2 separate regions of the Homo sapiens genome follow, and region 2 is linked to region 1. Evidence: fine-mapped expression QTL. A gene starts in region 1. The other region holds a variant in brackets. All regions are shown on one strand. Distances are from middle to middle.

Region 1 (5,375 bases):
TAGTTGTTGACATCTGGATGGTATCTTTATCATTAAGATTAGCAGCATTTTTTCTTTCTTAATGGTATATTAAATAAGGGCACATCTCATAATCAATATTATCTTAGATTAGCTGAAATATGATATATGGTATTCGTATTCTGCAAATGAAAGTAACTTGTCCTAAGTCACATATGGCCTGCTAACAAGTGGCAAGGCCAAAGCCCTGTTCTAAAGACAGATCTGCTTGACTATAAAGACTGTGGCTCTTCACTGCCCCACTGCCCACCTCTGACAACCCACAGCTCTCTCTTCTAATGACACTTAGCACTTACTATTTTATTTTACAGTTAGTTGTGCTTCTGATCTCTCGTCCCAGTCCTGCCCACTTAAGACTGTGGACTTCTTAAAAAATGATGGAATTTGCTAATCCTAGGATAAAATAATGTGTGTAAATCAGAACTGGTGTAGTGGCTCACGCCTGTAATCCCAACACTTTGGGAGGTCGAGGCAGGAAGATTGCTTCAGCCCAGGAGTTTGAGACCAGCCTGGGCAAAACAGTGAGACCTTATCTCTACCTTTTTTTTTTTTTTTTTTTTGCGACGGAGACTTGCTCTGTCGCCCAAGCTGGAGTGCAGTGGCACGATCTTGGCTCACTGCAACCTCTGCCTCCTGGGTTCAAGCAATTTTCCTGCCTCAGCCTCCTGAGTAGCTGGGATTATAGGTGTGCGCCACCTTGTCCGGTTAATTTTTTTGTATTTTGAGCAGAGACGGGGTTTCACCATGTTGGCCAGGCTGGTCTCGAACTCCCGACCTCAAGTGATCCACCCACCTTGGCCTTCCAAAATGCTGGGATTACAGGCGTGAGCCACTGTGCCCAGCCACTTTTTTTCTTTTTTAATAGAAAAACAAAACAAAAAAATGTGTAAATCACACAACAAAGCACCTAGGACAGAAGCACTTAATACAACTGTGTCTGCCAGACAGAAAAAGCGTTGCCTGTAAAGAAAGGTGTGCATCTATACACATGCAATGACCCTGTGAATTTCCTTCTTTAGTTCGCTACCTCATTTGTAGACAGGAGCAATGCCAGGCCTGCCTCCCTCACAGGGTTGTGGTATGGTTTCACATCAATTAAGAGAGGATGGACAATTATTACAGTTCCTGAAAGGACTCCCCTATCTCTATTCTTGCTCCCCACAGTCCATTTTCCACACAACAGCCACAGTGATCTTTTAAAATTGCAAACCAGATCATAACACTTTCTGGCTTAAAACTCTACAATGTCTTTGTATTGCACCTAAAAATAAAGGCCAACTTCTCTATCACGGCCAATAAGGCCCTGCATGACCTGAAACTGGCTGGTTCTCTGATCTCATCCCTCTAGCCTCCTTTTAAATCTTCAAGACATCTGACTCTGTATGTGGTAGTTTAATGTATGAATGAGTCTCCCCACCATCCTCTACCCGCAAGCTCTCCATTTCTCCCTTCTCAGTGTAACTTGGTGGCTCAATCTGCCACAGGGCCCATGCACTTAAAGTGCACTTCCCCCAGAACTTCACATAATCATTCAAGTCGGTTTCAATATCCTGCACTTTTCCTAGGCCCCTATCTAAAACAGCTCCTCCTCAATCCTAGTCACAATGTACTATTGTAACTAGGACCGTACTGTTACATCATCTTCATAGCTCTTTTCATCCTTTGAAAAATAATTTATTTTTTAATTTTTTATTGACGAGGTCATGCCCTGTCGGCCATGCTGGGTGCAGTACTGCCATAATAGCTCACTGAAGCCTCGAATTCCTGGGCTCAAGTGATTCTCCCGCCTCAGCCTCCCGCGTAGCTGGGACCACAGACACGCGCTACCACGCCCGGCTAATATTTCATTTTTTTTGTAGAGATGGGGTCTGGCTGTGTTGCCCAGGCAGGTCTCGAACTCCCGGCTTCAAGCGATTCTCCCTCCTCGGCCTCCCAAAGTGCTGGGATTACAGGCCTAATCCACCGGGGTGCGACCCGGCCGAAATTATTTTTATTTATTGTCATCTGTTTCACCCAGTAGACTGTAACCTCCACTAAGGCCCCTGTCTGTCACGATCTCTGCTAAAATCCAGAAAATAATGCCTGTACACAGGAGGCGATCCAAAACTATTTACTGAATGAATGACTGAATGCCTTGGCTACTCCTCTAAAGACCAAACGGATTCTATCCAGCCCAAAAGACACATTCCATCTGGCCAGTCGTAGCCGGACCGAGACAGCCGAGCCCCGGAGTCGAAGTCCCGCCCTGCAGGGTCCTCACCGTCTGAAACCATGGCTGTCCCAGCACCTCAGCGCAGAGCAAGTGGTGGTCAGGGGAGCGTCTCAAATCCTGCGCAGCCCAACGTCCGGCGCCGCCAAGTGACGCACGAGGTGCTGTGACTCGTGCCAGCCCCCTAATCTGCGGAAGTGGAGTGCGGGGAGTGCGCCGGAAGAGGGGTACGGAAGTGCGCCGGAAGTGGGGTGCGGAGGTGTGCAGCGCGCTGTCAGACTGGCTCGCAGGCGGCGCGGCCGGCGGACCCGTTCGAGACAGCGCGGGCGGCTCGGGTCCCCTGGGGCTCCGCAGCAGGAGGACGCCATGGACGACAAGGGTAAATCAAGACAGGCCAGGGCTGCTAGGCTACAGCAGCGCCGTTCAGGGGTCCCCCCAACCTCTCACATCCAGGCTGAGCTCCCGAAGAGATTTCTTTTGAATTTCAGGCTGCTCCGCTGGTTGTGTTTCCAGAGTCACAACTAAATCCCTCGCGCTGCTCTTGTTTTCAGGGATGCGCCCTGGCAGTATCTGCAGGCATCCCTCCCACACATACGCTCCTTCCCAGTGCCAGTCTCCTTCCTGCCTTGTTGGATCTGTCATTAAAATTAGAATGAATAAGGCATATTTGATGTGCTCATCTAGTATGGTTATTAAGTGAAAAACAAGGGCAAACTAATACACTTTTCATGTAAAGAAATAAAGGGGAGTGGGTGGAACTCCATGTATAATATTTGTAACATATATGTGTATGTGAATAGACATGTATTAGCATAGACTGTCTGGAGGGGTGCAGGAGAAATTGGCAAGATGGTTGACTCTGGGATCCTCTCAGATTTTAGGACCAAAGAGGCTGAAGAGAGAATGACTTTTCATCATCATTTACTCGGGCTTAATTTTTAGGCCTTGCACACCAGTAGCTTTTTTTTTTTTTTTTTTGAGACGGAGTCTCGCTCTGTCACCCAGGCTGGAGTGCAGTGGCGCAGTCTCGGCTCACTGCAAGCTCCGCCTCCCGGGTTCACGCCATTCTCCTGCCTCAGCCTCCCAAGTAGCTGGGACTACAGGCGCCCGCCACTACGCCCGGCTAATTTTTTGTATTTTTAGTAGAGACGGGGTTTCACCGTTTTAGCCGGGATGGTCTCGATCTCCTGACCTCGTGATCCGCCCGCCTCGGACTCCCAAAGTGCTGGGATTACAGGCGTGAGCCACCGCGCCCGGCCACCAGTAGCTTTTTCAAAATAAAAAAGAGCTCTTGCAAACAGCAAAGTGGTATTTTCTCTATTCCCATCAACATTTATTGCATCCCTGAAACCAAATACCCTAAAAAGAAAGTATTTTTTAAATTGTTTGCTTCTTAAAGTCAACAGTCATTAACAAGCTCTCTTGCCTTATAGGCTGCTAAATGAATTAGGTGAATCACTTTTTTCCCTTTTTCCAGAGTTAATTGAATACTTTAAGTCTCAGATGAAAGAAGATCCTGACATGGCCTCAGCAGTGGCTGCCATCCGGACGTTGCTGGAGTTCTTGAAGAGAGATAAAGGTATATAGAGAGTCATCTGTTAACACTCTGGGACTTAGGATAGTCTTTTTTTTCTTTTCTTTTTTTTTTTTTTTAAAGAGACGGAGCCTCACTCTGTCACCCAGGCTGGAGTGCAGTGGCGAGATCTTGGCTCACTGCAACCTCCGCCTCCTGGGTTCAAGCAATTCTCCTGCCTTGGCCTCCTGAGTAGCTGGGATTATAGGTGTGCACCACCTTGTCCGGCTAATTTTTTTGTATTTTAGAGACAGGGTTTCACCATGTTACCCAGGCTGGTCTCGAACTCCTGAGCTTAGGCAATCTGCCCGCTTTGGCCTCCCAAAGTGCTAGGATTACAGGTGTGAGCCACTGTGCCCGGCCGTTTGTTTTTTTTGAGACAGAGTTTTGCTCTTGTCTCCCAGGCTGGAGTGCAATGGCACAATCTCGGCTCACTGCAACCTCTGCCTCTCAAGTTCAAGCGATTCTCCTGCCTCAGCCTTCTGAGTAGCTGGGATTACAGGCATGCACCACCACGCCTGGCAAAATTTTTTTTTTTTTTTTTGAGACGGAGTCTCGCTCTGTCACCCGGGCTGGAGTGCAGTGGTGCCATCTTGGCTCACTGCAGGCTCCGCTTCCCAGGTTCATGCCATTCTCCTGCCTCAGCCTCCAGGTAGCTGGGACTACAGGCGCCCGCCACCATGCCTAGCTAATTTTTTGTATTTTTAGTAGAGACGGGGTTTCACTTTGTTAGCCAGAATGGTCTCGATCTCCTGACCTCGTGATCCGCCCATGTCGGCCTCCCAAAGTGCTGGGATTGCAGGCGTGAGCCACCGGGCCCGGCCAAATTTTTTTATTTTTAGTAGAGACAGGGTTTCACCATGTTGGCCACAGTGGTCTTAAACTCCTAGCCTCAGGTGATCCGTCCGCCTCGCCCTCCCAAAGTGCTGAGATTACAGGCGTGAGCCACCATGTTCGGCCAGGAAAGTCTTCTAATGACTCTTAGAAATGTAGAAAGTGAGAGATGCATGTTTGCCTGCATAAAGTAGTAATACAGCTCCAAGCTCAGCTTCTGCCTTCATTTCAGACCTTTCAATCTGGAGAGAGCTCTTACGTTGTCATGAAAAGGATCCCTTTCATAAGTGAAACAGACTTTGAATCGAGAGTGACTATGTTATATTGTGTTAACCATGATGCGTAAATTTCAGTAGCAGTTCAGCTTTATAAGTGTTTATTAGGCCTCCACCTTGTGCCAGATTCTGTACAGATGCTACAGGGAATATTCCAGAATAAATTCTGGTATTAGTATTATTTATTGTGATCCCCTAATTCAGCACCCTAAATGTAAGCATCTGGGTATAGCATGAAATCTTGTATAAGCAAAATAATAATGCAGCCTTTAATCTGAAGGGCTTGCCTAGAGACACATGTCTTTAAGGCAACCTCCAGTGTCTTCCCATTGTTCTTAAAATAACATCCAAACAACCTTAGCCTCACCCATACCACCTTGCAGACCTCATCTGCCGCTGCTACTTAATGTCTTTCCATGCCTCAGCCTCCCAAAGTGCTGAGATTACAGGCGTGAGCCACCATGCC
Region 2 (5,375 bases), 76 kb before region 1:
CCAGGGAGGAGTGCAGTAGCACGAGCTCGGCTCGCTGCAACCTTGACCTCCTGAGCTCAAGCGATCCTCCCACCTCAGCCTCTGGAGGAGCTGGGATTACAGACGCGCGCCATCACACCCGGCTAATTTGTTTTTAAAATGTTTATAGAGAAGGGGTTTCATCATGTTGGCCAGGCTGGTCTCGAACTCCTGAACTCAAGCAATCCTCCCGCCTTGGCCTCCCAAAGCGCTAGGATTACAGGCGTGATCCGCCGCCCGGAGGGATCCTAGGCTTCTTCGTGAAGTTGGAGTGTGCAGCCAGCATCCCAATCCAGTTTTCAAACATTTCCCACCGACCTCGCAAGACTCCTCCTGCTCAGTTGCAGTCTCCCCTTCCCGCCCGGCCTGGCCACCACAGGACAATTTTGTCTCGCTAAATTTGCCACCTCCAGGCTTGTCCTGTCGATGGAATCACACAGCACCCAGTGTGTGTTCCCCACACTGACCGGGAAGCAGTGGCCCCCCGCCCCAGGCCGCAACCTCACCGCTGTCCCAGTCGAGTCTCTGCTTACATATCCCCTTCCTTGAGACTGTCCCTGGAGTCACATCCTTGTTCTATTTCCTTCACTGCACCTGCCACCATCTGAAATTATCTTGTCTGTGTGTTAGTGCCAGTCTTCCCTGCTAGAATGGAAGCTCCACCAAGGTGGGGACATTGTTTCTGCCACTGTGGTATCTCCAAGCCCCAGCACATAGTAGCCACTCAATAAATAGTTCATGAATGCATACATAAATGTATAAACTTAAAAAAGTTAAAACCATAGACACTCCAGACCCCATTCTGCCAAACTGAGTTTTTTCCTTCTTTTAAGTACAAAAGGCGTCCTCACAAAGCCCACAAAATCAAGCTAAATTACCTGTCATTTGGAAGTTTTAAATTTATTTTCCATAAATACCTGAAATCCAAAGCTAGTTACACTAGGCTGGGTGCCCTGGCTCACTCCTGTAATCCCTGCACTTTGGGAGGCTGAGGCAGGTGGATCACTTGAGGTCAGGAGTTTGAGACCAGCCTGGCCAACATGGCAAAACCCCGTCTCTACTAAAAAAATATAAAAATTAGCTAGGCGTGGTGGTGGGCACCTGTAGTCCCAGCTACTCGGGAGGCTGAGGCAAGAGAATCGCTTGAACCTGGGAGGTGGAGCTTGCAGTGAGCTGAAATGGCATCCCTGGACTCTAGCCTGGGCAACAGAGTGACACTCTGTTTCAAAAGAAACAACAACAACAAAAAGATACAGTAAGAACTGTGAAGGTGAATTCAAAGGCTGAAGTTCAGACAATAATTGACTCAGACCCCAGCTCCGTCAGTCCAGTACTGACCCAGATTCCTGAGTCAGCCCTAGAGGGGTCGGGTGAAGGCCCAACACCACCACAGTACAGATGCTGAAATTCACGGTATTTCCATCATGCAGAAACTTAGGACCTCTGCAGTGACTAGCTCATCCCCCTATTTGAAAGTGGACTCAGGCCGGGCGCAGTGGCTCATGCCTGTAATCCCAGCACTTTGGGAGGCCGAGGCGGGTGGATCACGAGGTCAGGAGATCGAGACCATCCTGGCTAACACAGTGAAACTCCGTCTCTACTAAAAATACGAAAAATTAGCTGGGCATGGTGGTGGGTGCCTGTAGTCCCAGCTACTCAGGAGGCTGAGGCAGGAGAATGGCGTGAACTCGGGAGGCGGAGCTTGCAGTGAGCAAAGATCACGCCACTGCTCTCCAGCCTGGGCAATAGAGCAAGACTCCGTCTCAAAAAAAAAAAGAAAAAAGAAAATGGACTTAAGACTGGAGGAAAATTTGAAATTGCCCCTGGGCAGGAACTCTGCAGCGAAGATGAAACAGCACATTTTATGTGGTGCTGGGTATCAGCAGGCACTAGGAATTCGATCAAAAAGTATAAAAGGGAAAATAATTATTTTTCAAAATTAGGCTTAAATAACATAGAAAATCCATCTGAAACAACTAAGTTACCTGGCACACAAAGAAAACTTACAGGTGATGTGCCATGTGGCCACTGTAGGACCGTGGCTAAAAACATCTATTCCAGGGCTGGGCACAGCAGCTCATACCTATAATCCCAGCACTTTGGGAGGCTAAGGCAGGTAGATCACTTGAGCCTAAGAGTTCGAGACCAGCCTGGGTAACATAGGGAGACCCCCTTCTCTACAAAAAAAAAAAATACAAAAACTAGCCAGGTACAAGCCTGTGGTCCCAGCTACTTGGGAGGCTAAGGTGGGAGGATCACTTGAGCTCAGGAGGTCGAGGCTGCAGTGAGCCGTAATTGTGCCACTGCTCTCCAGCTCTCCAGCCTGGGTAACAGAGTAAGACCGAGTCTCAAAAAAAAAAAAAAAAAAAAAATCCATTCTCCCCACTGAGTGGGGTTGACTGTTCCCATGTGACGGCCCATGGGAGAAATTTGTCAAGACTCAGCTAGGAAAAACTGTCCTTCATTGATAACCAGTTAATTTTTAATGAATAGATTTCATAATTCCTGTATTAATGAATAGATTTCATAATTCCTATAGCTAATCATACTTGGGTTTTTGTAAACTGGGGTCTTGGTTGGGCATAGTGGCTCCTGCTGGTAATCCCAGCACTTTGGGAGGCTTAGGTGGTAGGATCGCTAAAGCCAGGAGTTTGAGACCAGGCTGGGCAACATAGCGAGACCCCCATCTACTAAAAAAAAAAAAAAAAAAAAAAAAAAAAAAAATAGCCAGGCGTGGTAGCTGTGTGCCACCTGTAGTCCCAGCTACTTGGGGGAGAATCGCTTGATCCCAGGTGTCTGAGTTTACAGTGAGCTATAATCGTGCCACTGCACTCCAGCCTGGGCAACAGAGGGAGAACCTGTCTCCAAAAAACAAATAAATAAATAATGAATTAGGGGCCTGCTTCTGCTAAAGGCAACCTCTGGCATGTATTTTAGGGCTTACATGTGCCCCTGGTTTTGTTTTACTTTTCTCTTATTATTTTCCTCCCGCAGCCCCCATATCTTTCCCCATCAGTGATTTTGTGTTTTTGTATTACATGCATTTTTAAGGATTTCTTAATCCTTTCTACGGAATATGGGAAACATCAATCAACACGAATGTATTAAAAACTAAAGAAAAGACTGATTCTCTCTGGTATAAATAAAACTCCTATGACTTTAACTAATTTGTGATAAGCTAAAATTTCTAACATTTTTGAGTTCTTCTCATGCATTTTACTCAGT[T/C]CAGGCCAGCGATGAGAATATTCATTCTGCATTGGATAGCTACATATATGAATTAAAGTCACAGGGCACTTAATAAAAATTTTCTACAAAAATAAGACATTTCATTTATTAAAATTTTATAGAGAAGCATACAAGACTACAACAAATCACTGAAGTCAAGGTCTAAAGTCTTTGAGAAGTCAGATGGACCGGACGCAGTGGCTCACGTCTGTGATCCCAGCACTTTGGGAGGCCGAGGTGGGCAGATCATCTGAGCTCAGGAGTTACAGACCACCCTGGGCAACAAGGCGAAACCCCGTCTTTACCAAAAATACAGCCAGGCATGGTGGAGCATCTGTGGTCCCAGCTACACCAGAGGCTGAGGTGGGAGGATTGCTTGGGAGGCAGAGATTGCAGTGAGCCGAGATTGTGCACTGCACTCCAGCCTGGGTGACAGAGACCCCGCCTCAAAAAAAAAAAAAAAAAAAAAAAGGCCGGGTGCGGTGGCTCATGCCTGTAATCTCAGCACTTTGGGAGGCCAAGATGGGCGGATCATGAGGTCAGGAGTTCGAGAGCAGCCTGGCCAATACGGTGGAACCCTGTCTCTACTAAAAATACAAAATTAGCCGGGCGTGGTGGTGCATGCCTGTAATCCCAGTTCTCCGGAGGCTGAGGCAGGAGAATCGCTTGAACCCAAGAGGAGGAGGTTGTGGTGAGCCGAGATCACTTCAGCCTGGGCAACAAGAGCAAAACTCCATCTCAAAAAAATAAAAGCCAGGTGGTTGTCTAACTATAGGCTTTGCATATTCTGGTCCAGGGGTTGCTGAGGAACAAGGCCAATGTGAGGAACAACAGCAACAGTAAGCCCTTAGCAACACACTGAGAATGCAGCTCCCCTGAAAAACAATGGACAAAATTCAACAGCAGTATTTCTTAACTCTTTTGATAACAGTGTAGGTATAGGCTGGGTGTGGTGGCTCACTCCTGTAATCCTAACACTTTGGGAGGCCAAGGAGGGCGGATCACTTGAGGCCAGTTCGAGACCAGCCTGGCCAGCACAGTGAAACCCCGTCTCTACTAAAAATACAAAAATAGCCAGGCATATTGGTGCTGTAATCCCAGCTACTCCAAAGGCTGAGGCACGAGAGTTGTCTGAACCCAGGAGGCAATGGTTGCAGTGAGCTGAGATTGTGCCACTGCACTCCAGCCAGGGTGTCAGAGCAAGACTCTCTAAAAAAAAAAACAGTGTAGGTAGAAATAAACTAAGCCAAAACAGTAATGGTGATCACTTCCAAGTGGCAATATTATCCGTACTTTTTTTTAAGTTTCTATATGTTTTATGCTTTCTGTAACATTTAGACATCATTTAAAAAATTTTTTTAAATTGACATAACATAATTGGTCATAGAAATCTGTTTCACCCTACCTTGATAATACTGAGTCCATGGATATAGAAGCTGCGGCCAACACACCTCATTTCTGTTGCAGTCATACTCTGTATAATTGATCTGGAATCTAGAAAACATTTTAGAGGGTTACAAAAACTACAAGTGAGAAGTATCAGAACTTGATTAAAGGAATAAACTTCCAATTTTCAAATATATATTTTTCTGCTTCCTAATGTCAACTAGGTGAGCAACTGGAGTACCTTGTCAGGGGGTGGGGTAACTGTGCAGGAATTTTAATAAACTGGACGGATGCACTGATAGGGAGAAGGTCGGCCTTGTGCTCACAGGTAAGCCCACACTGGTACTGCCAGTTCACTGAGGAGAACCTAGGAGGGAAAGATCACATGGTCAGCATAGCCACCATTCAGTTCTATTCCACCAAGAACAGCAGGTAACGGATGCAATCACAATATAACCTGAGGTTCTCCTAAGAAGTTTCGCATTCTACCTGGGCTGTTTTTTCTCAGTATTTGTCCATGGTCTTTGACCATTTCCACAGACAGATCCAAAGAGAAGAGAAACTCCTAATAACCCCTCATGGGCCTGTCGCCCAGCAACATCTGCCAGTCTTGTTGTCAGTCTCACTCCTCTCCAGCCAGTGCATTGTATACAGGTGCTATCAAAGGTACCTTTGTTCATCACCTGTTTTTCTCAAACAATATAATAATAAAAGCAGCAGCTAGCCACTTATTGAGGGCTTTCCAC

The links. PIP is the estimated chance that this variant, and not a neighbour inherited with it, causes the effect.
Region 2: its variant is fine-mapped to the expression of EIF2B1 in prefrontal cortex (GTEx, PIP above 0.99).

What each region holds. Positions count from the first base shown.
Region 1 is chr12:123,630,776-123,636,150 of GRCh38, reverse strand. EIF2B1 (eukaryotic translation initiation factor 2B subunit alpha) reads left to right here and starts at 2,465. Exons shown (of 9, transcript NM_001414.4): 1 at 2,465-2,606; 2 at 3,705-3,806. The coding sequence starts at 2,594. GTF2H3 (general transcription factor IIH subunit 3) reads right to left here and starts at 2,322. Exons shown (of 13, transcript NM_001516.5): 1 at 2,279-2,322. The coding sequence starts at 2,291. RefSeq lists an enhancer at 2,249-2,438.
Region 2 is chr12:123,706,347-123,711,721 of GRCh38, reverse strand. TCTN2 (tectonic family member 2) reads right to left here. Exons shown (of 18, transcript NM_024809.5): 16 at 4,871-4,996; 17 at 4,649-4,737; 18 at 3,323-4,118. The coding sequence ends at 4,009. Among named protein-coding and RNA genes, the nearest start is that of ATP6V0A2, 3.3 kb to the left of the region's middle. The variant T/C (reference allele first, on the strand shown) is at 3,244.